Linked DNA regions of Homo sapiens: regions 2 and 3 are each linked to region 1. Evidence: fine-mapped expression QTL. A gene starts in region 1. Each other region holds a variant in brackets. All regions are shown on one strand. Distances are between the middles of the regions. Region 1 holds the start of DDX28 (DEAD-box helicase 28). Region 2 holds the start of SLC7A6 (solute carrier family 7 member 6). Region 3 overlaps DUS2 (dihydrouridine synthase 2).

Evidence for each region.
Region 2: its variant is fine-mapped to the expression of DDX28 in monocytes (BLUEPRINT, PIP 0.95).
Region 3: its variant is fine-mapped to the expression of DDX28 in monocytes after LPS (Quach 2016, PIP 0.95).

Annotation. Positions count from the first base shown.
Region 1 is chr16:68,019,125-68,027,303 of GRCh38, reverse strand. DDX28 (DEAD-box helicase 28) reads left to right here and starts at 4,072. Exons shown (of 1, transcript NM_018380.4): 1 at 4,072-6,388. The coding sequence starts at 4,102. The coding sequence ends at 5,724. It overlaps DUS2 (dihydrouridine synthase 2), which reads right to left and starts at 4,020. Exons shown (of 17, transcript NM_017803.5): 1 at 3,953-4,020; 2 at 1,810-1,889. RefSeq lists enhancers at 3,920-4,159, 3,870-4,620, 4,621-5,371.
Region 2 is chr16:68,262,353-68,270,531 of GRCh38, reverse strand. SLC7A6 (solute carrier family 7 member 6) reads right to left here and starts at 6,006. Exons shown (of 11, transcript NM_003983.6): 1 at 5,956-6,006; 2 at 3,811-3,939. It overlaps LOC124903704 (a long non-coding RNA gene), which reads left to right and starts at 6,075. Exons shown (of 3, transcript XR_007065096.1): 1 at 6,075-6,164; 2 at 7,118-7,345; 3 at 7,836-7,871. RefSeq lists an enhancer at 4,269-5,468 and a silencer at 5,841-6,120. The variant ATG/G (reference allele first, on the strand shown) is at 4,019.
Region 3 is chr16:68,060,796-68,068,974 of GRCh38, reverse strand. It overlaps DUS2 (dihydrouridine synthase 2), which reads right to left. Exons shown (of 17, transcript NM_017803.5): 8 at 7,862-7,909; 9 at 2,593-2,658; 10 at 2,339-2,409. Among named protein-coding and RNA genes, the nearest start is that of NFATC3, 20 kb to the left of the region's middle. RefSeq lists an enhancer at 7,423-7,472. The variant C/GC (reference allele first, on the strand shown) is at 3,607.

The sequences.
Region 1 (8,179 bases):
TCATGCCACTGCACTCTAGCCTGGGCAACAAGAGCAAAACTCCATCTCCAAAAAAAAAAAAAAACAAGAAGTTAATGGACCAAGTGCAACAAGAGCTATGATCCACTCCATGCTTCAGTCACAGAAGAACTCTATCCCAGCCAAAGTGCATTTAAAGTGCTTTGTTATCACTCAAGTTTGGTTTTAGAGGAGACGAATGACTACTCCAATCTCTGGCTTACCCAGTAAAGGACTACAAGCCCTTTGGCCAACTTGCATGGAGCCATCACTTGAGTGAACAAGATTCACATAAGAAAGCAACAGAAGAGGTTGAGCCCAATTCTGGATACTGATTAGGAAATAATCTGCAGGCAACAAGGATTCATGAATGGCTTTTGAGTCAAAGGGTAACATGGCCATAGCTGTGCTTTTTTTTTTTTTTTTTTTTTCAGATAGACTCTTGCTCTATCACCCAGTCTGGAATGCAATGGCACAATCTCAGGTCACTGCAACCTCCGCCTCCCGGGTTCAAGCAATTCTTCCACTTCAGCCTCCCGAGTAGCTGGGATTACAGGTGCCTGCCACCATGCTCAGCTAATTTTTGTATTTTTGTAAAGAAAGGGTTTCACCACGTTTGCCAGACTGGTCTTGAACTCCTGACCTCGTGATCTGCCCGCCTTGGCCTCTCAAAGTGCTGGGATTACAGGCGTGAGCCACCACACCAGGCCTAGCTGTGCTTTAATAACATCACTCGGGAAACAGAAGGTAGACCAGAGGGTAAAAAACAAAGAGCAGGTAGGGAGCTGGATGAGAAGGAAGGTCAAAGGGTCCAGGAATACTATAGTGATAATGACTGAAAATATGATTACCTGCGCACAGCCCTGCTACAGGTGGGAAAATGGAGGAACAATAAAGTAATACCAATAGCACTTTTTATTGCTGTAATGCTTTGCAATTCCCAAAGTGCTTCATTTATAACTGTGATTCTCAAGCCTAGTTACATCTGGAGAGGTTTCTAAAAATACCAATTTCTCGGCTGGGCACAATGGCTCACATCTGTAATCCCAGCACTTCGGGAGGCCAAGGCAGGCAGATCAACTGAGGTCAGGAGTTCGAGATCAGCCTGGTCAAAATGGCAAAACCTCATCTCTACTAAAAATACAGAAATTAGCCGGGTTTGGTAGCACGTGCCTGTAATCCCACCTACTGGGGTGGCTGAGGCAGAAGAATCACTTGAACCTGGGAGGCAGAGGTTACAGTGAGTCGAGATGGCACCACTGAAGTCTAGCCTGGGTGACAGAGCAAGACCTTGTCTAGGCCTTAACCCAAATCAATTAAATCAGAATGTAAACTCCACAAGGGCAGGGATTTTGGCTGTTTTCCTCACTACCAATGCCTGGCACATGCGTGGTGCTCAGGAAGTATTTGTTGAATGAATGATTGAATGAATGAATGAATATACCATTATTAACTGAGATCCAAGGAACACACCAAGCTCCTGATCTCAGGAGCTTAGATTTTTTTTCACAATAAGGATACCTTTCCTATTTCTAAAGCACTACTTATAAAAATATCTCAGAAAACATTTAGAAGTTAATCAATGTCCTCTGTGAGTGAGGGGGAAAAAAGGTAGGCAGTGTCTAGTGATGTGACAAGAAGAAATTAGTGGCCACGGACACAGACAGGCTTAGGCAAGCTCTAACTCCTGTGAAATTTTGAGGTAATCATATTGTAAGGACTCAAGCATAATGAGAAAACAACTATATATTAACCAGCTACCCTACCCTGGATATTTGAACAAAACCCAAAAACCCAAATGCATATACATACCTATTATTTTGTTCTGATACTTCAGGATTACTTTGATATATGTGTTCTGGCTTTGTACAGAGTAATTCTTTGTTTGATATCTGAAAAACAGTGGCACATGGAAATGGATGAAACCTGTTGGGACAAACATCCAAGGGACCTTTTTTTTTTTTTTTTGAGACAGAGTCTCGCCCTGTCGCCCAGGCTGGAGTGCAATGGTGCGATCTCGGCTCACTGCAACAACCTCCGCCTCCCGGGTTCAAACGATTATCCTGCCTCAGCCTCCCGAGTAGCTGGGATTACAGGCATGAGCCTGGCCCCAAGGAACTATTTGGATAAGGAGAAGCCCTGAGTTTGGAAAGAATCATAAAAGTAGCATAGAATTGGGCCGGGCACAGCGGCTCACACCTGTAATCTCAGCACTTTGGGAGACCAAGGTGGGCAAATCATGAGGTCAGGAGTTTGAGACCAGCCTGCCCAACGTAGTGAAACCCTGTCTCTATTAAAAATACAAAAATTAGCTGGGAGTGGTAGCGCACACCTCTAATCCCAGCTACTCAGATGGCTGATGCAGGAGAATCCCTTGAACCCAGAAGGCAGAGACTGCAGTGAGCTGACATCGCACCACTGTACTCCAGCCTGGGCAACACAGTGAGACTGTCTATAAAAAAAAAAAAAAAAAAAGTATCCAGCCATTGTCAAATATGGTGGGAGGGAAAGGGCAAAATCACCCTTGTTTTAGAACCACTACCCTATCCAATGACTGTTCATTCACCCATCACTACTCAAAACTTTCTCTTCCTACTTCCAGATATTTTCTTGTGGAGAAAAAAAGCCTCTCTTCCTCTGATTTATCTGGTAACTCTCCAGAAAGTCTAATTGTGTAGCACAAGGGTAGAGTGTACTTAAAATTGTGAAAGTTTTTCCTCATACTATTCCAAAAAAAGCAAAGTTTTTATCTTTTCATTGGTATTTGATGAAACTAAAACGTTTTCTCCAGATGTTACGAACCTCCCAGAGAGTTAATCCATAAATATTTACCTTATCTCCCACCCCAGGCACTGCAAATTACAGAAAAGATCTGACACCCATTTTCCAGATCTGTTCAAGAAGTATCTGTTGGGCATGGTGGCTCACGCTTATAATCCCATCACTTTGGGAGGCCGAGGTGGGAAGATCGCTTGAGGCCAGGAGTTCGAGACCAGCCAGGCCTACATAGTGAAACCCTGTCTCTACTAAAAACAGAAAAAATTAGCCGGGCGTGGGTGGTGTACGGCTGTAGTCTCAGCTACTTGGGAGGCAGAGGCAGGAGAATCACCTGAACCCAGGAGGTGGAGGTTGCAGTGAGCCGAGATTGCGCCACTGCACTCCAGCCTGGGTGACAGAACGAGACTGTGTCTCAGAAAAAAAAAAAAAAAAAGTGACTCGTATAGTTCTTGTTTTTACAACCCGAATATCTGAATTCAGGTAAAATATTCTGCCTGACCAGGGCTACATGATAAGCCACGTACTTGATCACTTTGTAGGGTCGCAGCACCCTTCTTACTACTATTTTAGGTAATTCAGGTTTCTGACGGGGAAGCCAGTGGAGCTGAGCGGGCTGCAAGAGGGGTGGGTTCTGGATGAGAAGTTGGGACGCGTGACGAGGGAGTAGAGAGTGAACCTTGGCTTAAAAGGAAGGAAAATAACTGTGAAGAAAAGATGACCCAACTTGAAATAAAACCTGAAGACCTTATCTCCCACTTGAGAGAGAGAAGAAGCTGAAAGCCATCAGCTTGCACTCTGGGCTCACAGACAGAGAGGGTGAGGGGTTGAGCCCAGATCTATGACTTCAGACCCCTGTCTCGGCCCCTAGGCCTGATCATTCATTCAAACTCTCAATAAACACGGATTACCAGACCCTGCGCAGGGAACACATCTGGGAAAACAGCTGCAACCTCGGATACCAGCACGGGACAAGCTATCTCAGGGCAATGAGGAACAACTAAAGAGAATCCCAGGAACCAGGTAACCAATCGCCAGAAGCCCTCCGCCCTCATGGTCCATTGGGTCAAGGCCCCACTGCCGCCTCGTATCGCCAGCCTCCAGTCCTGCCTCCACGACGCGCCCTTCCCCAAGGCTGGCCGGGTCTGGATGTCGCCATCCCCTATTCGGAGCTACAGACCTCGCAGCTGAACTCTTAAAAAGAACCTCGCTTCTTCCTCACGGTGCTCCAGCTCCACACACCGTACTGAGCCTCGCCAGCCACCGTACGCGAGGTCGCGGCGCGTCCGTGACGTCACTGATGTGCGCTTCTCCCGCACTAAGGGAAACATGGCTCTAACGCGGCCGGTGCGGCTCTTTTCCCTCGTGACTCGGTTGCTCCTGGCGCCGCGACGGGGCCTCACGGTCCGCAGTCCCGACGAACCCCTGCCGGTGGTGCGCATCCCAGTGGCTCTACAGCGGCAGTTGGAACAGCGGCAGAGCAGGCGGCGGAACCTCCCGAGGCCGGTGCTGGTTCGACCCGGACCGCTGCTGGTTTCGGCGCGGCGGCCGGAGTTGAACCAGCCGGCGCGCCTCACACTGGGCCGTTGGGAGCGCGCGCCGCTAGCCTCTCAAGGCTGGAAGAGTCGACGCGCGCGTCGGGACCACTTCTCCATCGAGCGCGCGCAACAGGAGGCGCCAGCGGTGCGAAAGCTCTCGTCTAAGGGCAGCTTTGCTGACCTGGGCCTGGAGCCCCGTGTGCTGCACGCACTACAGGAGGCTGCGCCTGAAGTCGTTCAGCCCACAACCGTGCAGTCTAGCACCATCCCCTCACTACTTCGCGGCCGCCATGTCGTTTGCGCCGCAGAAACCGGCAGTGGCAAGACTCTCAGCTACCTCCTGCCGCTGCTTCAACGGCTCTTGGGCCAGCCAAGCCTGGACTCCCTTCCTATCCCCGCGCCCCGAGGCCTGGTCCTTGTTCCTTCCCGAGAATTGGCCCAACAGGTGCGGGCTGTGGCCCAACCCTTGGGCCGCTCCTTGGGCCTGCTGGTGCGGGACCTGGAGGGAGGCCACGGCATGCGTAGGATCAGGCTGCAGCTGTCCAGACAGCCTTCAGCAGATGTGCTTGTGGCCACTCCAGGGGCTCTGTGGAAGGCCCTGAAAAGTCGACTGATCAGTCTGGAGCAACTCTCCTTCTTGGTGTTGGATGAGGCAGACACACTGCTGGATGAAAGCTTCCTGGAACTGGTGGACTACATCTTAGAGAAGAGCCACATAGCAGAAGGCCCAGCTGACTTGGAAGACCCCTTCAATCCCAAAGCTCAGTTAGTGCTGGTAGGAGCCACATTTCCCGAAGGTGTAGGCCAGTTGCTGAATAAAGTCGCCAGCCCAGATGCTGTCACCACCATCACCAGCTCCAAGCTCCACTGTATCATGCCTCATGTGAAACAGACATTTCTGAGACTGAAGGGAGCAGATAAGGTGGCCGAGCTGGTGCACATCCTCAAGCATCGTGACAGAGCAGAAAGGACTGGTCCCTCAGGAACTGTTCTGGTGTTCTGTAATAGCTCCAGCACTGTGAACTGGCTGGGATATATTCTGGATGACCACAAAATCCAACACCTAAGGTTGCAGGGGCAAATGCCAGCCTTGATGAGGGTAGGAATCTTCCAGTCCTTCCAGAAGAGCTCCCGAGACATACTTCTCTGCACAGACATAGCCTCTCGGGGCCTGGACAGCACTGGTGTGGAGCTGGTTGTCAATTATGATTTCCCCCCAACGCTGCAAGATTACATCCACAGAGCAGGGAGAGTGGGCCGTGTGGGGAGCGAGGTGCCAGGCACCGTCATCAGTTTTGTGACCCATCCCTGGGATGTGAGCCTGGTTCAGAAGATTGAGCTGGCGGCTCGCCGAAGGAGAAGTCTTCCAGGACTAGCATCCTCGGTGAAAGAGCCTTTGCCCCAAGCAACCTGATTTTGACAAATCTGATTAAAATGTGATGCTAGAACAGGGATCTTTCCCAGTATCTTGAGTGGGTGACCACACTTGTCAGTGGGAGGCTCTGGGCTGCCCTGTCGGCTCCTTGAGGGCGGGATGAACTGCTTTGTGACTTGGAAAGGTACGCTGCTGGCCAGCATTGGAGAAGAAGCTGCTGAGCATGGCTTTCTGTAGTCTTTAGCAAGACACAAGTGGATTTTGACTTTGTATCATGTCATGATTTCTAACAATAAATGATGTTTTTATGTGCCTCCCCTAAGAATAATTAGCACCGGGGCGGAATTCAGTAGTTTCTGAGGATTCATACACCAAACCTCCACATCTAGGACAAAGGCTCTTTCAGTTGATGTTTTCATTTATAAACATTTAGTTTGTATTTCCTGCCCCCAAAAAGGTATCCATTAAGCCCCCAGGGAAAGGAAAGGAAAGGAAATGTGACTAGCAGTAGACAGAGTTACTCTCTAACAATGCCCAAGACAAACGGGCGTCTTGGCGAAATCTCTGGAAGGTACTGGCAGAAAAGTAAAGGGTAGACGAACACAGAAGTTTTGCTTGTACATTTTCAGGTTCTGCCTTCTATCCCAACTCGGTAGCCGAGAAAGAGGAGAGATGATTAAACGGTTTTACAAAACTGGAAAAATAACCATATAGCATTTTCTTTATATATATATATACGTATATATATATATATATATATATATATACATACGTATATATATATATACACATACATATATATACGTATATATATATATGTATATATATATATACGTGTATATATATATACGTGTATATATATATGTGTATATATATATATACACAAAAAAAAATTACAAAAATCAACCCGGCGTGGTGGCACGCGCCTGTAGTCCCAGCTACTCGGGAGGCTGAGGCAGGAGAATCACTTGAACCTGGGAGGCGGAGGTTGCAGTGAGCCAAGATCATACCACTACACTCCAGCCTAGGGGACAGAGCAAGACTCCATCTCAAAAAAAAAAAAAAAAAAAAGCCGGGTGTGGTGGCTCACGCCTGTAATGCCAGCACTTTGGGAGGCTGAGGCAGGAGGATCACCTGAGGTCAGGAGTTTAAGACCAGCCTGGTAAACATGCGAAACCCCATCTCTATTAAAAATACAAAAAAATTAGCTGAATGTGGTGGTGCACGCCTGTAATCCCAAATACTTGGGAGGCTGAGGCACAAGAATGGCTTGAATTCTGGAGGCGAAGGTTTCAGTGAGCCAAAATTGCACTTCTGCACTCCAGCCTGGGTGACAGAGCTGATATTCTGTCTCAAAAAAAATAACAGAATCCTGAGCCCCACTCCAGATGGGATTAAGCTCTCTAAAGTTTGACCTGAGAATACTCTTTGTAAACTCCCCCAGGTGATACTTGGGCCCTCCCAAATTGATAAACCATTTGTCTATGCTGTACTGCCTTTCCCAGAGTCCCAGCAAATTCCTGTAAGGCTTTGTACCCCCACAAGACAAGAGGGATGCTTCCGGACAAGTACTCTCTCCAGAGCCTTGGAGAATCTGAGTGATCTCATGCTAGCCCTCCTGCCAGAACAGACTTCCCAGGAACCATCCCCTTGATATTTTACCTCCTACCACTCCCTGCAGGCCATCAATTAGCACCACACTAAAGCAACTTATGAGAGAAGGTGCTATGATTCTCAACCGGGGTGACCCAGTCTCCAAAGATCGGGCCGTCTCTACCTCCTGGGCATATCCCCTCTGCAATAACCCCACTAAATAAATGTCCCATGTTTGCTTTTTCAAGGCCAGTAATAGGGAGACCTCTCCTTAAGGTCATCTCTCTTTGGTAGGAAGTTCTTGGCCACACTGAACCAAAGGCTGCTCCTAGTGTGGTCCTGATCAGGCTAAGGGCAGAGTTGCCTGTTTCCTTTGAGTAGGACCAAATCGCCTTTTTTTAAATATAAAAAAAATAGACACAAGGTCTAGCTATGTTACCCACGCTGGTCTCAAATTCCTGGGCTCAAGAGATACTCCTGCCTCCACCTCGCAAAGTGCTAGGATTACAGGTGTGAGCCGCCACGCCTGGCCCTAATGACCTTTTGGTACCTCTCCACAGTGCTGACCTGGGCTGCTGCTGGGAGCTAAACCTCATCCTTTCATAGTGATAAGATTGTCATTGTTTGCCTATTTAAAGAGAGGGCAGTGTAATGATAAGGTTATGATTTTGTATTGTTATCTTTTTTTTTTTTTTTGAAACAGAGTCTTAACTCTGTCACCCAGGCTGGAGTGCAGTGGCACAATCTCGGCTCACTGCAACCTCTGCCTCCCAAGTTCAAGCAATTCTCGGGCCTCAGCCTCCTGAGTAGCTGGGATTAGAGGTGCACACCACCATGCCCGGCTAGTTTTTATATTTTTAGTAGAGACAGAGTTTTGCCATGTTGGCCAGGCTGGTTGTGA
Region 2 (8,179 bases), 240 kb before region 1:
GGTTACTCAGAAGAAATACTGGGCAAGTAACCTGAGAAAACCGCTCTTGGTAGTGCTGGCTTATGGGAGGGAAAATACAAAGGCCAACCTATACCCTTCTCCTCTAAAGAATAAAAACCATAAACCCCTGGGAAAGGGCAGCAAACTCTGTCACTCCTGAGGCAGCTGGGGCAGGATAAAAGAAAAAAAAAACCTCTATGCCTGGAGGAGGGGTAGGAAATTCTGGGCAAGACCACCGGAGGTGTCTTTCTCCTGGGAAAAGGGCAGGAGCACCCAGAAAGATCCACTCCCAAGACCCAGGGAAACAAACAGGGCCTGCTTAAGACTGAGGCTGAACCAGACAACAGAGAAATCCCTACTCCCTACCACCAGGTTAGCAAGCACCCAGGAACAAGCAACAGTAGTCTACCACTGAGACTGTGCACTGAGGCATAGGTGCACAGAGAAATCCTAAAGCTGAGGGTGGCTGGACGCAGTGGCTTACACCTGTAATCTCAGCTACTCTGGAGGCTAAGGCTGGAGGAACTTGAGGCCAAGAGTTCGAGACTAGCCTGGGCAACATAGCAAGACCCCATCTCTACAAAAAAAAATTAAAAAGTAGCCAGGCATGATGGCACACGCCTATAGCCCCAGCTATTTACTCAGAAAGCTAAGAGGTAAGTTTGAGTTCAGGAGTTGGGAGGCTGCAGTGAACCATGATGGCACTACGGGCACTCCAGCCTTGGTGACAGAGTGAGATGACCGAGTGAGACCTTTTTTCTTTCTTTTTTTTTTTTTTGAGACAGAGTCTTGCTTTGTCACGCAGGCTGCAGTGCAGTGGTACAATCTTGGCTCACTGTAACCTCCACCTCCTGGGTTCGAGGGATTCTCCTGCCTCAGCCTCCCAAGTAGCTGGGACTACAGGTGTGCACTACCATGCCTGGCTAATAAACTGAGGGTATGGATGGAGGATAACCACTGAGAAAAAGCCTCCCTCCTGCAAACCAACCGTAAGCTGGCAAGGAAACATGAGAAGAATTTGAAGTCATTGGTGCACCTAACGTAACCATAGCAACAATAACACCCAAACACTACTGTCTCCTGACTAGGAGTTCAAACTCCCATACAAACAGTCTAGCAAAGAAGAGCTGTACCCAGTTCCCAAAATAAATACTATATACCTCAGTCTCTACTGTTCCACACACGGTATCTGGCAATCAGTAACAAGTTACAAGCAACATAAAAAAAGCAAGAAAAACAACCCACTATCAAGAGGAAAAGTAATCAATAGGACCATATTGAGAGATGACCCAGATAATGGAAACATCAAACAAGGAATTTAAAATAATTGTGTTTGATACATTTAAGGTTCTACTGAAAAAGTTGAACAGCATGCAGAAACAAATGTGGAACTTTAGCAGTGAGATGAAAACCAAAAGGGTCAAAATGGAGAAAGTGAAAAAATAGAACAGAACATCAACCTGTGGGGCAATATCAAATAGCCTAGGTAAATATTTTTTAATACGTATTTTTGCTCTTTTTTTTTTTAGACGGAGTTTCGCTCGTTGCCCACGCTGGAGTGCAATGACGCGATCTTGGCTCACTGCAACCTCCGCCTCCTGGGTTCAAGCTATTCTCCTGCCTCAGCTTTCCGAGTAGCTGGGATTACAGGCATGCGCCACCACACCCAGCTAATTTTTTGTATTTAGTAGAGACGGGGTTTCACCATATTGGTCAGGCTGGTCTCGGACTCCTGGGACCTCAGGTGATCCGCCTGCCTCGGCTTCCCAAAGTGCTGGGATTACAGGCGTGAGCCACCACACCCAGCCAACAAAAAAATTTTTAAAAATTTTAAATTCCTGCAGTCTCCTGCAGCAGGTAATAAAGGAATTTAACAGACTACCAAAATTTCCCCATGAAAATTTAACCACGAAACTGCCACAAGCAATTTTTGGAATAAATGAATTTATCACAATTCAATTACATCAGAAAACGGGATGAAAGGGGGGAAAAGCTCGATTACAAAGGAAGTTTTACAAAGTGGATTTGAAACCAAAATTTTTGTAATGACTAAAGGAAAAAATGCTATTGAGAATGTTTGGAAAAACTCAAAACCATTTTTACTGTGTACTCTCACACCACAATAATCAACACAGAAGAGTTCTGTGACCAAATGCCGGAGGGGGAGGGTTCCCCACTAACAAGCAATCATTTCTCCCCAGGGACACCAGCTGAGTGTCCTCCAGTTCAATCCCAACACTATCTACCTGGAGACAGCATCAGATCCCACAGCAGAAGGGCTCAGTTCCACAAGACTGCCCCTCCCCAACAGGATACCTGGCACAAATCCAAGCCTCCTGAACTTCTGACCGAACTGTTTCAAGTTGGGGCTCCCAAGACTCCTCTTTCAGTTCAATTAATTTGCTAGAGCGGCTCACAGAACTCAGAGAAACACTTACTTACCTTTACTTGTATATTATAAAGGCTATTACAAAGGATACAGATGAAGAGGTTTGCAGAGCCACATATGGGGGAAGGGTCACAGACTTTCCTTGTCCTCCCAGGGAGAAGTACCATCCAGGAACCTCCACATGTCCAGCTATCCGGAAGCTCCCCAAACCCCCAGCCTCTTGGGTTTTTATAGAGGCTTCATTACATAGGCATGAGTGATTAAGCCACTGGCCATTAGTGATCAACTTAACCTCACCCTCCTCCTTTCTCCCCTCCCCGGAGGTTGGGGGTAGGGCTCAAAGTCCCAACCCTCTAATCCTGACTTGGTCTTTCCAGTGACCAGCCCCCATCCTGAAGCTTTCTAGGGGCTGCCAGCCACCAGCCATCAGCATACAAAAAGACATTACTTTGATCTTTCTAAGTATTTTAGGAGTTGTATGCTAGGAAACGGGCTGAAGACCAAAAAATATTTTGCTATATCACAGAGAAATACATCAAAATCTTTTTATTCCCCCCTCTGGTTGAATCAAAATCTTAACTATGGTGAAAACACAGAGGACTTTTTCTTATAAAACTCTCTGAGTTATGGCCAGGCGCGGTGTCTCACACCTGTAATCCCAGCATTTTGGGAGGCTGAGGCGGGTGGATCGCCTGAGGTCAGGAGTTCGGGACCAGCCTGGCCAACATAGTGAAACCCTATCTCTGCTAAAAATACAAAAAATTGTCCGGGCATGGTGGTGGGCACCTGTAATCCCAGTTACTCGGGAGGTTGAGGCATGAGAATCACTTGAACCCGGGAGGTGGAGGTTACAGTGAGCCAAGATCGCACCATTGCACTCCGCCAGGGCAATGAGAGCGAAACTCCTTCTCAAAAAAAAAAAAAAAAAAAAAAAAATCCACCACAATTGGGAGGCTGAGACGGGCAGATTGCCTGAGCTCAGGAGTTCGTGACCAGCCTGGCCAACATGGTAAAGCCCCGTCTCTACTAAAAATACAATAATTAGCTGGGCATGGTGGCGGGCGCCTGTAATCCCAGCTACTTGGGAGGCTGAGGCAGGAGAATCGCTTGAATCCAGGAGGCAGAGGTTGCAGTGAGCAGAGATTGCGCCACCACACCCCAGCCTGGGTGACAGAGTGAGACACTGTCTCCAAAAAAAAAGAAAAAACCCACCACAATTACTCTTTATAAAGAATTGTAATATAAATAAATGTATAATTTATTTTTATAATAAATTACAGTGTTATTTAATATGTAATACTAAAGAGTTGTTAATTATGTGTAAGCCATTCTGTTTACTAGTATTGTATTCACACTGTATACAAGTAAAAACTCTTTGTAAATCACACAAACAAAAGAAAAGACAGCGCAACAATATTCACCTGTCAAGAAATACGCGAACATCACACTTTCATAAGCCACCTCCTCATAAATGGGTCCAGTACTGAGAAGGAAATGAAGTCCCCTGCAGCAAGGCCTAATTCCACTTGTCTGCCTCGGCCACATAAACTCTGCAACAAAGAGTGGGAGGGAACTGATCAAAAAATGAACTCTTTTAACCTGAGAAAGCTGATTTAAATATATATATAT[ATG/G]TAATTATTTTTAATTAACCAAGAAAGCAGCAGAATGATATTTCCTTGTAAAATCTAAATTTTACATGCCCGGCAGGGGCAGTCCTAATTACTAGCAGGTTCCATGACACCCACAGGGTGGGTATAACTGAAGTAGCCAGCCCAAACCTGTCAGAGAACTGGCCTTGTCACATTAAATCATGTAAGTCTAGGCAGCTCTGGGGCCCCAGGTCCCGTGGGCACCGTTTACATAACTTTTTTTCTTTTTTTTTGGAGATGGAGTCTCGCTCTGTTGCCCAGGCTAGAGTGCAATGGCGCAATCTTGGCTCACTGCAACCTCCGCCTCCCGGGTTCAAGCCATTCTCCTGCCTCAGCCTCCCGAGTAGGTGGGACTACAGGTGCCCACCACCACACCTGGCTCAATTTTTGTATTTTTAGTAGAGACGGGATTTCACCATGTTAGCCAGGATGGTCTCGATCTCCTGACCCCGTGATCCGCCTGCCTCGGCCTCCCAAAGTGCTGGGATTACAGGACTGAGCCACCGCGCCCGGCCTGCATAACTTTTTTAGAAACTAATATACATCCAAGAAATTACAGCAGGAAGCACAAAGGTCAGGAAATTTCTTCTACTAAGAAGTTCCAGGGAGATGGGGATCATAAAACCGGTATATGCAATAAAAATACATCCACGGCCAAATAGGGAAGGAGGACAAGGAGAGGAAGAGAGGAGAAAATCAGGCTGGTGGTTTTCCACACACTTGCCAGGAAAATAAACTCCAGTGTAACGACTTGAATAACGATCTGAGATCAAAGTTGGGAAGCAAAAGCCGTCTGCGCAGCACACATGGGACCTGAGTAATGCAGGCAGCCTGGGCAGGTCCCCAAAAGGCCTCACCGCCACCAAAAAGAGGTGGAACTGATATAAGGAAGTACTCACAGCCTTTCAAGTCTGCTCCTCCCAGATCTGAAATCTGGGAGCAGTTCTGAGAGACAAGCCCCGGATGGCTGGGCACTGAACAGCCGCCCTGCGAGATGAGCTGCCCTGGCTTTTTCCCCTATCAAGGGCAGAGACTGAATTCTTTTTAACTGTGTCACCAAGCCCAGGGCATACAAGAGGTACTCAAAAACGTGTTCGCCGACACCCTGATTCCTATTTATACTGACCATTACACAACATGTTTGCTTAGAGCCCAGCAAAGAATTTTCAGAATGTTTCACGTCTATCTCCCCACATTCAGGAGAGATAGTCACACAAGATGACAGGCTATAGGGACGCTCAAAAGAGCCATAATCACCAGGGGCACGCGGGTTCCCCAGCGCCAGCAGCCCAACGCTCCAGGCTCCAGCACGCCACAAAACCTTGCGGCATTCTCTAAAGTAAAAGGACTGATTTTAAAATGATAATCGTCATTCTTGCGACAGCCCCAGGAAGCCTGGCTCCTGAGGTCCTGAGCCCGCGTCTTTCTTTGCCCCACCGCGGCCGCCACACAGCACAGGTTCTCCGTCCTGCAGTCGGAGGCGCAGTCACAGCCCCACTCAGGGTCACCGTCGCACAGTCTCACGCTCGCGGCGCGGCCCGCGCACTCAGCGTCCCGGTCACCCTCGCACCTGGGGTTTCCCTCTCCACACACACCCCCGGTCTCCCTCACACTCGCCGCGTCGCCAGCACACCCCAAGACTGGCTCCCTCGCGGTCACCATCAGCCTCCGGGGCTCGCACCCATACAGCGTTTCTCCCACACTCGGCCCTCACGCTCGAGGTCCCTCTCTCCTCGTGGCGCCCCCCCTCACCCGCAGCGCCTCTCGCGCGGCCCCGATCGGCCAGCCCCGCGCTGTTTCTGGGCCGCATCCCGCTCCCGACGGCGGCAGCGAAGACCCACAGGGTTCGGCTCCCACAGAACGCGGCCCAGCCCCGGCCCCGCTCCCGGCGCGCCCGCCCATGGCCCAGCCCGTTACCTCCCAGTGGCCCGGCGCCGCCAGGATGCTCGGTCGCGCCGCCGCCGCCGCGGCAGCTCAGGCCCCGCCCCGCCACGTCACCCGCCGCCGGATCGCGACAGCGCGCGCCGCGTCGGGACACAGTTCCGTGCGGGGCCAGCTGGCGGCGGCGCTTCCGGGCCCCCGTGGCCGCCACGGCCTGGCCGGTACGGGGTCCGCCGGCCCAGAACGTGAGCGTGGACGCCAGACAGCCCCCAGCTGCCTCGTCAGGGCTCGAGCAGCCCGTGAACTGGGCCCGGCCACGCTCGCCGCCCTGGAGTTAGATGGGGCCTCCGAGGGCGTCCACAGCGGACATTCCCGCGGGGAGCTCTCATCGGCCCCCGCACCCCGTTCCTATCTCGCACTTGACCTGGGCCCGACGCCCAGGGCGCCCCCTACAGCTCACACAGGGATCCAAACGGCCTCCGCCGCCGGGCCACTGCCACTCGCAGTCTAGGAACCCCAGGAAGACACACACTCTGGGGACTTGTCCAAACACACGCACAGCTCAGACTCGTAGCCCTTGAGGCCCCCGCACCCACAAAGAAACTGCAGGCTCCCTTTGCCAACCCCAGGCCTCCCTGGGGCTCTGTCCTCATCTTCCCAAGAGGGCTGCCACCCCTCTTGGGGGAGCTGCACCTCCTGCCCCCCCTCTTGGGGGAGCTGCACCTCCTGCCCCCTTCCCCTCCCTCTGTTTGCTCCTCCATCTTTCTCTCGAGTTCCTTTTCCTCTGGTGGCTCTGGGGCTCTCTGTCTAGAGCCTCCTGACCTCATGGGCGCCTGAGCCCTCCTCCGAAATTTCCTGTCCACACCTCAAGCACTGACTTTCTCCAGGGCCCTGGAATCTTTTCCCCCAGCCTTATGACCACAAGTACACGTCCTCTGGTTCCAGACCATACCCAAGACCCTGCTCCCTGCCACCCAGTGACAGGGACCCAGCCAGAGATGGGTAGCACCTCAGACCCTTCCTCCCCACTCCTCCCACGGCCTATACCTCGTTTTCTTCTCCCCAGCCACAACGGCTTCTCAATCCCTATCCTGCTCCCCTTACCCCATCTCCACAGAGTAGGGGATGCTCCTAGAATACAGATTGCGATGACTTTGTATCTCCCCTGCCTAAAACCCTTCCATTCTCCTCTCTGCAGGCCTGGGATGACAATACTTGAGGAATCCTCGCTGGTGCTGCCCTCCTGCCCTCTGCTTGGAACCCCTCCCCTAAGTGTCAGTGAGTGGACGTATATATTTGGATCAATCGAGTTGCACCCTTTGCCTCCCAGATCAGTTCCTCCGGCCTCCCTGGCTGAGCAGAAGGACAGCTCTGGACACTTGTGTCAGCACCCAGCCCACGTGTCCCTGCCACAGCTTCATATAAGGTATGCCGGCTCAGCCGGGCCTGGTGGCTCACGCCTGTAATCCTACAACTTTGGGAGGCTGAGGCAGGCAGATCACCTTGAGGTCAGGAGTTCGAGACCAGCCTGACCAACATGGAGAAACCCCGTCTCTACTAAAAATACAAAATTAGCCGAGTGTGGTGGCACATGCCTGTAATCGCAGCTACTCAGGAGGCTGAGGCAGGAGAATCGCTTTAACCCAGGAGGCAGAGGTTGCAGTAAGCCGAGATCGCGCCATTGCACTCCAGCCTGGGCAATAAGAGCGAAAGTCTATCTCAAAAAAAAAAAAAAAAAAACACCATATGCCAGCTCCGTCTGGCTTTGCAGTCTCATACCCAGTTACGTAGCCCATCAGCTGAAAGCCCAATGTACACCACACCCTGAATCAGATGTTCTCCAACACCATCAGTGTTCCTCAGGACCACCCTGCAGGATACATTTATTTGTAACCATTCTTTTCTTTTGCTTTTAGAGATCTTGCTGTTGCCCAGGCTGGAGTGCAATGGCTATTCACAGGTGTGATCATAGCTCACTGCAGCCTCGAACTCCTGGTTTCAAGCGATCTTCCTGCCTCAGCTTCCTACTTGGGACTACAGATTTATTTCATCTTTTTTTTTTTTTTTGAGATGTATCTCGCTCTGTCTTGCTCAGGCTGGAGTGCAGTGGTGCCATCTTGGCTCACTGCAGCCTCCGCCTCCCAGGTTCCAGTGATTCTCCTGTCTCGGCCTCCAGAGTAGCTAGGACCACAAGGCATGTGCCACCACACCTGACTAATTTTGTATTTTTAGTAGATATGGGGTTTCACCATGTTGGCCA
Region 3 (8,179 bases), 42 kb before region 1:
ACTCACCCACATCTGTCTTCCGAGTGTTCCCAACTACGGGTAAAAAATAATAGCTTCCTTTATTAAGAGAATACTGGCTTGGCATGGTGGCTCACGCCTGTAATCCCTGCACTTTGGGAAGCCAAGGTGGGTGGATTATTTGAGGTTAGGAGTTTGAGACCAGCCTGGCCAACATGGTGAAACCCCATCTCTACTAAAAATACAAAAAAAAAAAAAAAAAAAGCCAGGCATGGTGGCAGGCACCTGTAATCCCAGCTACTCAGGAGGCTGAGGCAGGAGAATTGCTTGAACCCAGGAGGCGAAGGTTGCAGTGAGCCGAGATCATGCCACTGCACTCCAGCCTGGGCAACAGAGCAAGACTCCGTCTCAAAAAAAAAAAAAAAAAAAAAAGAGAGAGAAAGAATACTACATGCCAGGCACTGTGCCAAGGATTTATATTCACAATCTCATAAAAGCCCTGGGACAACCCTATAAAGTAGAAATTATCTTAATTTCTAAACAAGGAATGTTGTGCTCAGAAAGGTTAAGTGATTTCCCAAGGATATACAGCTAACAAGCAGCAGAGCCGGGATCTCAAACCAGGGAGTCTGAATCCAAAGCCTGCTGCCTTGGGAAGGCGCATATGTGTACAAGTGTGTACTCCTCCCTCCTGGCTTCAACCCAAGCAACTCTGCTTTGCTCTGCTTTGTATGAAGGGAGTTCTGGGTTCCCTTCTCTGAAAATGTTGTAAGAGCACAATCAACAACTTGGGCTCTTCCTATAAGACCCCTAAGCCCAAAGGAACATCACTCAGAGAAGAGAGGTCCCTCTGGCCCAAGTCTACTGACCTGAGATGCTGTACAAAATCACATCCTGGACACAGGGAACAAGTGTGAATGGTAAGCCAAGGGTGGCCTTCAGAACCTCAGCTCTCAGCATAGAGTACATTAGCTACAGCTAGAAGGATTGTTTAGTCATTGTGACAGCTGGCAGTCCAACAAATGCAGACAAGAGAGGCAGAGCCTTTAAAAGAATAGGTTGGGTATGGTGGCTCAAGCCTGTAATCCCAGCACTTTGAGGGGCTGAGGCAGGAGGATCACTTAAGCCCAGGAGTTTGAGACCAGCCTGGGCAACATAAGGAGATCCCGTCACTACAAAAAAATAAAAAATTAGCCAGGTGTGGTGGCATGTGCCTGTAGTTTCAGCTACTCAGGAGGCTGAGGCAGGAGGATTACTTGAGCCCAGGAGTTTGAGGCTGCAGTGAGCTATGATTGTGCCACTTCACTCCAGCCTGGGTAACAGAGCAAGACTGTCTCAAAAAACAACAACAACAATGAAAAACACATAAACAAAGCAGTCTGTCTGGGATTATTCAAGGGAGAAGTCATTGCTCAATATAATAGAAAGAAAATGAGGCTGGGCCTGGTGGCTCATGCCTGTAATCCCAGTACTTTGGGAGGCCAAGGTGGGCAGATCACCTGAGATCAGGAGTTTGAAACCAGCCTGGCCAACGTGGTGAAACCCTGTCTCTACTAAAAATATAAAAATTAGCTGGGCATGGTGGAGCGCACCTGTAATCTCAGCTACTCGGGAGGCTGAGGCAGGAGAATCACTTGAACCCGGGAGATGGAGATTGCAGTGAGCCAAGACTGCGCTACTGCACTCCAGCCTGGGTGACAGAATGACAAAGAGGAGGAGAGGAGAGGAGGGGAGAGGAGAGGGGAGGGGGGAGGGGAGGAGATGGGAAGGGAGAGGGGAGGAGATGGGAGGGGAGAGGGGAGGAGATGGGAGGGGAGAGGGGAGGAGATGGGAGGGGAGGGGGGAGAGGGGAGGAGATGGGAGAGGGAGGGGAGAAGGGAGGGGGAGGGGAGGGGAGGAAGGAAAGAAGGAAGGAAGGAGGGAAGGAAGGAGGGAGGGAGGGAAGGAAGGAAGGGAGGGAGGGAGGGAAGGAAGGAAGGGAGGGAGGGAGGGAGGGAAGGAAATAAATGAGATTTTTCTCATGAGGGTCAGAATTCCACCACGTACTGGCTGCATGGTATGATTTTGAGCAAATTACTCAATCTCTAGCATTTACACATCCTGATAGTAGAGGTGTTTCTCCTTTCTTAGTCTCTCTGTGTCTCTAAACCTCAGTACCTACCCTCAATAGGCACTCCATGAATGAAAGAAAGGCAAATGCAAAAGCCCATTCAGGGTCTGCCTGCCCTCCAGACTCATAAGATATCAAAGAGCTAGGCAGAGGTAGGCTGAATATGTAGAAGAGAAATTGGCTGTCACTTGGGGTGACAGATCAATTAAGGAAGGATCACTAAGATGGGTTAGGACCTCCCTGCCAGTCACTAGAAAGGTGACCACTCACCTCCCATGAACTGCGATGGCAGCAATGCCAGTCCTCTCTATCCGCTTCACAAGGCTCAGGGTATCTTCTAGCTGAGGAGGAGGACCACACAGGATGGTTACTGAAGCTCCAGAAGGAGCAGCTGCTGCCTCCTAAAGTAGGCTCAGCTCTACTCTCTCCTCCAAGCCTAATTTAGCACCTCAAGAATCGTTCACAAACCTAAATCCAACATCACCAGAGAGAATGGACCTTCATATGTAACACACCATCCTTACCGATGGCAGGATGCGAATCTTGCAGGTCACAGGTCTGCGTGTCCCTTTAACAAGAGTGCTGAGGATCTGCAGAAAGGAAAACACAAGAGCACCTATGTCTTCTGGAACAAACCATCACTCTGCCTGTACTAATTAACTCCGCTACAGGCTGTGCATTCCGGTGGCATGAACAGTTTGCATATGTGTGAATGCATGTGTGTGTCTGTTACACACATACACACATAAGCTCCATGAGGCAAGGGACCTGCCTTTGTTCTATACTGGAGCCCCAGCACCTGCCTGGCACCTAGTGGTATACACATATTTGTCAAATATACTGAATGAGTGAGTGAATGGGTACGCGTGTACACCTGTGTGCAGCTCACTGAGCCTTTGCCAGGACAAATACCAGAATTATCTGGAGAACTGAAGAAATACACACTCTTGAATTCCACACTATTATTTCCTGAGTCAGTCTCTAGGGGAAGGGCTTAGGAATGTGTGTTTTCAAAAGGCTCTGCCCAACACACTCCAGCCCGTCCTCAGAATCATTCTGAGGCCTAGCCTTGGTTAAGAACACACGGCTAAAAAAAAAAAAAAAGTAAGAAAAAAAGAACACATAGCTAACTGGGTGTGGTGGTTTATGCCTGTAATCCCAACACTTTGAGAGGCTGAGGTGGGAAGATTGCTTGAAGCCAGGAGTTTGAGACCAGCCTGGGCAACACAGCAAGACCCTGTTTCCTTTTTGTTTGTTTGTTTGTTTGTTTTGTTTTGAGACAGGGTCTGGCTCTGTTTCCCAGGCTAGAGTGCAGTGGCACAATCTTGGCTCACTGTAACCTCTGCCTCCCTAGCTCAAGCCATCCTCCCACTTCAGCCTCCAGAGTAGCTGGGACCACCATGTTGGCCAGGCTGGTCTCGAACTCCTGAGCTCAAGCAATCCACCTGTTTTATCCTCCCAAAGTCCTGGGATGACAGGCTTGAGCCACTGCACCTAGCCCATCCCTGTTTCTATTAAAAAAAAAAAAAGCGGGGGGG[C/GC]AGACAGCTTCTTTCCTGGGTGAAGGGAATGTTCCCTAAGTGTTGTTCCAGGACTTACAGGGTGAGGGAACAGGAAGGCTCTTAAGGGGGGCCTGCATTCCTCTTTAGGGCAGTCAGACATACATGAGTGAAACTGGCAAAGGAAAAGACAACATACTCATAAGATAAGCACATATTTAAAAGTGCTTATCACATAGCAATTGCAAAAGATTTCAAAGAAAGATCAAGAAGTCACGCAGGAAAGTGACAGGGAGGTAGCAAGACCAGACCACACAAGAATCAGAGATAGAGAGGTGTAGATGACACTGCATGTCTGTGTCATTGCTATCTTCTTCCCTCATCAGAAATTTCAGGCCAGGCAAGCTGGAGGAAAGATGATCCCAAGAACCCTCTTCCAAGAACTGGATCTCTGCCTAGCAGAGCAGGGGGATATCTAGGTGGCTGCTGCCAGTCTTGATTCTAGACAGGCGGGGGCAGCAGAGAGCCAGGTTGCAAAAACCAGTAGTGGAGGCCTATCAGGGACAGGATGAAGCAGGCCATTCCAGAAGACATCAGATCAAGAGGCTGGACTGACAGACAGTTCATGAGCAAGACAGGACCTGCTGGCCCAAATGCCAGGGACTGGCAGGAAGGAACAGTCTCTAGGTGCTGCTCCAGGAGGCAGACTTGGCCTGAGGTCTTAGGGTCACCCTGGCAGGCCTTAAAGAGGCACTTACATTTTAAGGGCGGGACTGACAGGTTCATCAAGAAATACAATAAAAATTCTCATTCTAGTCCCATCCTTCATGCTCAGAGCAACATCTCTAAAAGGTTCCATTACAAGTGCTCACTTAGAATCCTCTGACATTTGGTGATTTAAGCAACACCAGCTGGTCTGATCCAATTCTCTGTCTTGTAGAACTTCCTTTTGCTATTTTATCCAAGTAGCTCTCAGTACTTTCTTCAGTATTTCTGTGTGTTTCATGTGTGTGTTAAGGACTAGGAAGGAAATTAGGTAACCAAAAACCCTAGGCACTTGCAAGGGTCACACTGAGGGGAAATGGCAACTAGAGATTGTCTTCTGGCCAGGCTCTAGCATGACACTCTCCTGGACACCAACTCTCCAGATCCAAGTCTTTGGGGAGAAAGAATGAGAGACAAGTCCATATTTGAGCAGAGGAACAGCACATCTACCTACAAGCAGGCTTGCCTCAATAGACCCACTGGCCAACTGAAGAAAAGCAGTCTCCTTCACTCCCCTGGTTTCTGGGAGGCAGCAGATGAGGATAGGAAAGCATAGGCCTGGAAAGCACTGAGACCTGAGTTCATGTCCTGGCCCTGCCAATTGTCAGCCATGGCCCAAGTACAGTGTACACAAGGGGGATGCCCTGCGCACACCTGTAATCCCAGCACTTTTGGAGGCCAGATCACCTGAGGTTAGGTGTTCAAGGCCAGCCTGAACAACATGGTGAAACCCCGTACCTACTAAAAATACAAAAATTAGCCGGGTGTTGTGGTGCATGCCTGTAATCTCAGCTATTCAGAGGCTGAGGCAGGAGAATCACTTGAACCCAGGAGGTGGATGTTGCAGTGAGCTGAGATCGCACCACTGCACTCCAGCCTGGGCAGCAGAGCAAGACTCCCTCTCAAAATAAATAAATAAATATTTAAAAAAATAAAATAAAACTGAGGTTCTTAATCCAGGGAGCATATATCAGAGTTACCTGGTAGAAGCTTTCTCAAAGAGATTGATATCCCACTCTCCACCCCTACTCACCCCAAGGGTCTGCAGAATTCTCAACAGATAGCATCCTTTATTTCTAACTGGGGTAAAATATATATAACATGAAATTTGCCATCTTAAACATTTTTAAGTGTATAATTCAGTGGCATTAATTACATTCACAATGTTGTACAACCACCAATGTTATGTATTTCCAAAGTTTTTCATAACCCCAAACAAGAATCTTGAGAAAATTTCTAGAGGTGGTCTTGAGATACTCCCACAGATGGAACCACGGGCCTAAAACGCCAAGCCTGGAAGGACCCGCAAAGCTCTCACCCAGGTCACCCAGCTTGCCAACACAGTCTGGACCCGAATTGAATCCAGCCCCTACACCTAAGCCACATCTGGCTTTGTTGTGGAAGCCTGCAACCTCCCTACCATGGGGCAAACCCCATCTATCAGTCCAACCTGGCCCATCTGAGTACCCAACCAGAGAAGTAGTGAAATGAACTAAGCTTCTGAGGTTGAGTGTATCTCTGCTGCCTCATGGATGAAATCTGCCTTATTCAAAGAGGGGCAGTAGAGAGGACAGAGCCAACAGCCTGGGTCTGAGAAGAGAGGAGGCTGGAGGATAACAAAAATGCCTGTGTGCTCATGTTGTGAACCACATCCTCCCTGCTGGGGCCCCCTCTCCTAGGTGTGGAAACCAATTTGACATCCAAGATGTCTACTTCCACTCCACCCTGCACACAAGTGTCTTAACTGGAGATTTCCAAGTTGAGGTGCCTATTGACCTGACACTTATAAACTATACCCAGGCACCTTGAACCTGAGATGCTACTGGAGAGGGTGCTGACACTAGGAGTCAGAAGAGACTATAGTTCACAAGCTGGCTCTGCCTGCCACTTATTTACTATATGATCTTTTTTTTTTTTTTTTTTTTTTGAGACGGAGTCTTGCTCTGTCGCCCAGGCTGGAGTGCAGTGGCACGATCTCTGCTCACTGCAACCTCTGCCTCCCGGGTTTATGCCATTCTCCTGCCTCAGCCTCCTGAGTAGCTGGGACCACAGGCACCCGCCACCACGCCCAGCTAATTTTTTGTATTTTTAGTAGAGACTGGGTTTCACCGTGTTAGCCAGAATGGTCTCGATCTCCTGACCTTGTGATCTGCCCGCCTCAGCCTCCCAAAGTGCTGGGATTACAGGCATGAGCCACCACGCCCGGCCTACTATATGATCTTAAGCAAATTATTTTCTCTCTCTGTGCTTTAGTCTATTGTCCTTGATCAAATGGAGATAACTGCCAATCCTATCTACTTCAAGGGGTTTCAGGATCAAATGAAAGGCACATTATGGCTGGGCACAGTGGCTCACATCTGTAATCCCAGCACTTTGGGAGGCCAAGATGGGCAGATCACCTGAGGTCAGGAGTTCAAGACCAGCGTGGCCAACATGACAAAACCCCATCTCTACTAAAAATACAAAAATTAGCCAGGCGTCGTCGTGGGCGCCTGTAATCCCAGCTACTCAGGAGGTTGAGGCAGAAGAATTGCTTGAAACCTGGAGGCAGAGGTTGCAGTGAGCTGAGATTGTGCCACTGCACTCCAGCCTGGGTGACAGAGCAAGACTCTGTCTCAAAAAAAAGAAAGGCACATTATACAGGTGCACTATAGATAGAGTATCTCTGGCTGCACATGGGAAAAACGAGAAGGCATGTAGCCAGCAAGCACAGTGGTCTTCCTATGTCCCAGAGACAGTGGGGCTGGAGGAACATGCAGGGTTGGGCTGCTGGCACAGCAACCATGCAGCTCTCATTGGCAATGATGGCAGCTCTCATTGGTGATGCCTAAGTCCCAAGTCGCTCTAGCCTCTGGGAAGCAGGATGAGGCTTAAAGCCCAGACAGGGAAGTAGCGATAGAGAATGAAAAGGAAAACAAAGGAGCTAAAAGGAAAGAGCTGGCAGACTGGGAGAGGAACACAAACCTGTCCCCAGGGCCTCATTAAGCTAGCCTACAGAATCACCAAAGAAAGGGGAACAGAGAGAGACTAACTTCAGCTTGCCTCCTCTGACCCTGGCCCGGGCTTCTCTCCAAGGGCTGGGGTAGACTCTTTCAGGACATAGGGGACCCACTGCTCCTCTCATCAAGCCCCCTGGGAGAGGCCAATCCACCCACACACATACAAACACATATGGCCACTGAGCCCGTCCTCACCACAGGTGGGCTGGCCTCTGCTCTCAAGACCTTCCCAGAAGGGAGACAGGAAATACAGAGGAGGTTCTCTGTGAGTCCTCAGGACCCCTGGCTCTTCATTGACATGTCTCTTGCTCTGGGCTTTTTAGGAACATCAAGGCTGCTGTAGGCTGGCTCGGGGGTTCCCAAACTTAGCTGCATGTCAAAATCACTGGAAAATTTTTTGGAAATCGCTAGGCCTCAGGGAGAGAAACTGGGTGGACATCAGTAAATCTGGTATTGGTGGAAGGAGGCGTTCTAGACAATTCTAGTTTGGAGCTGTGTTTGAGGACCCCTGCTTTCACTCGTGGAGGACTTACCTTCTCAATCTTGTCAGGGTCTGACAGCAGGGCAGCTCCCATTCCTCCCTAAGGAGAAACACACAAAAGGTCTTCTTACATCTGGGAGACACTATGGCCCTCTCCATGGGATGGGGTCTGGCAACTGAGCGTCACCCCGGCACTCACTTCCAAGGGACCAAGGCCCACTGGCAACCGGCACTTCTTTTAAACAAGTAGGAGGGCAGCAGTATCTGTGCCCATAACATCTGGGACTGAAGTGTGATAATTTTTTTTCTTTTTTTTTTGAGACAGATTCTCGCTCTGTCACCCAGGCTGGAGTGCAGTGGCGCAATCTCG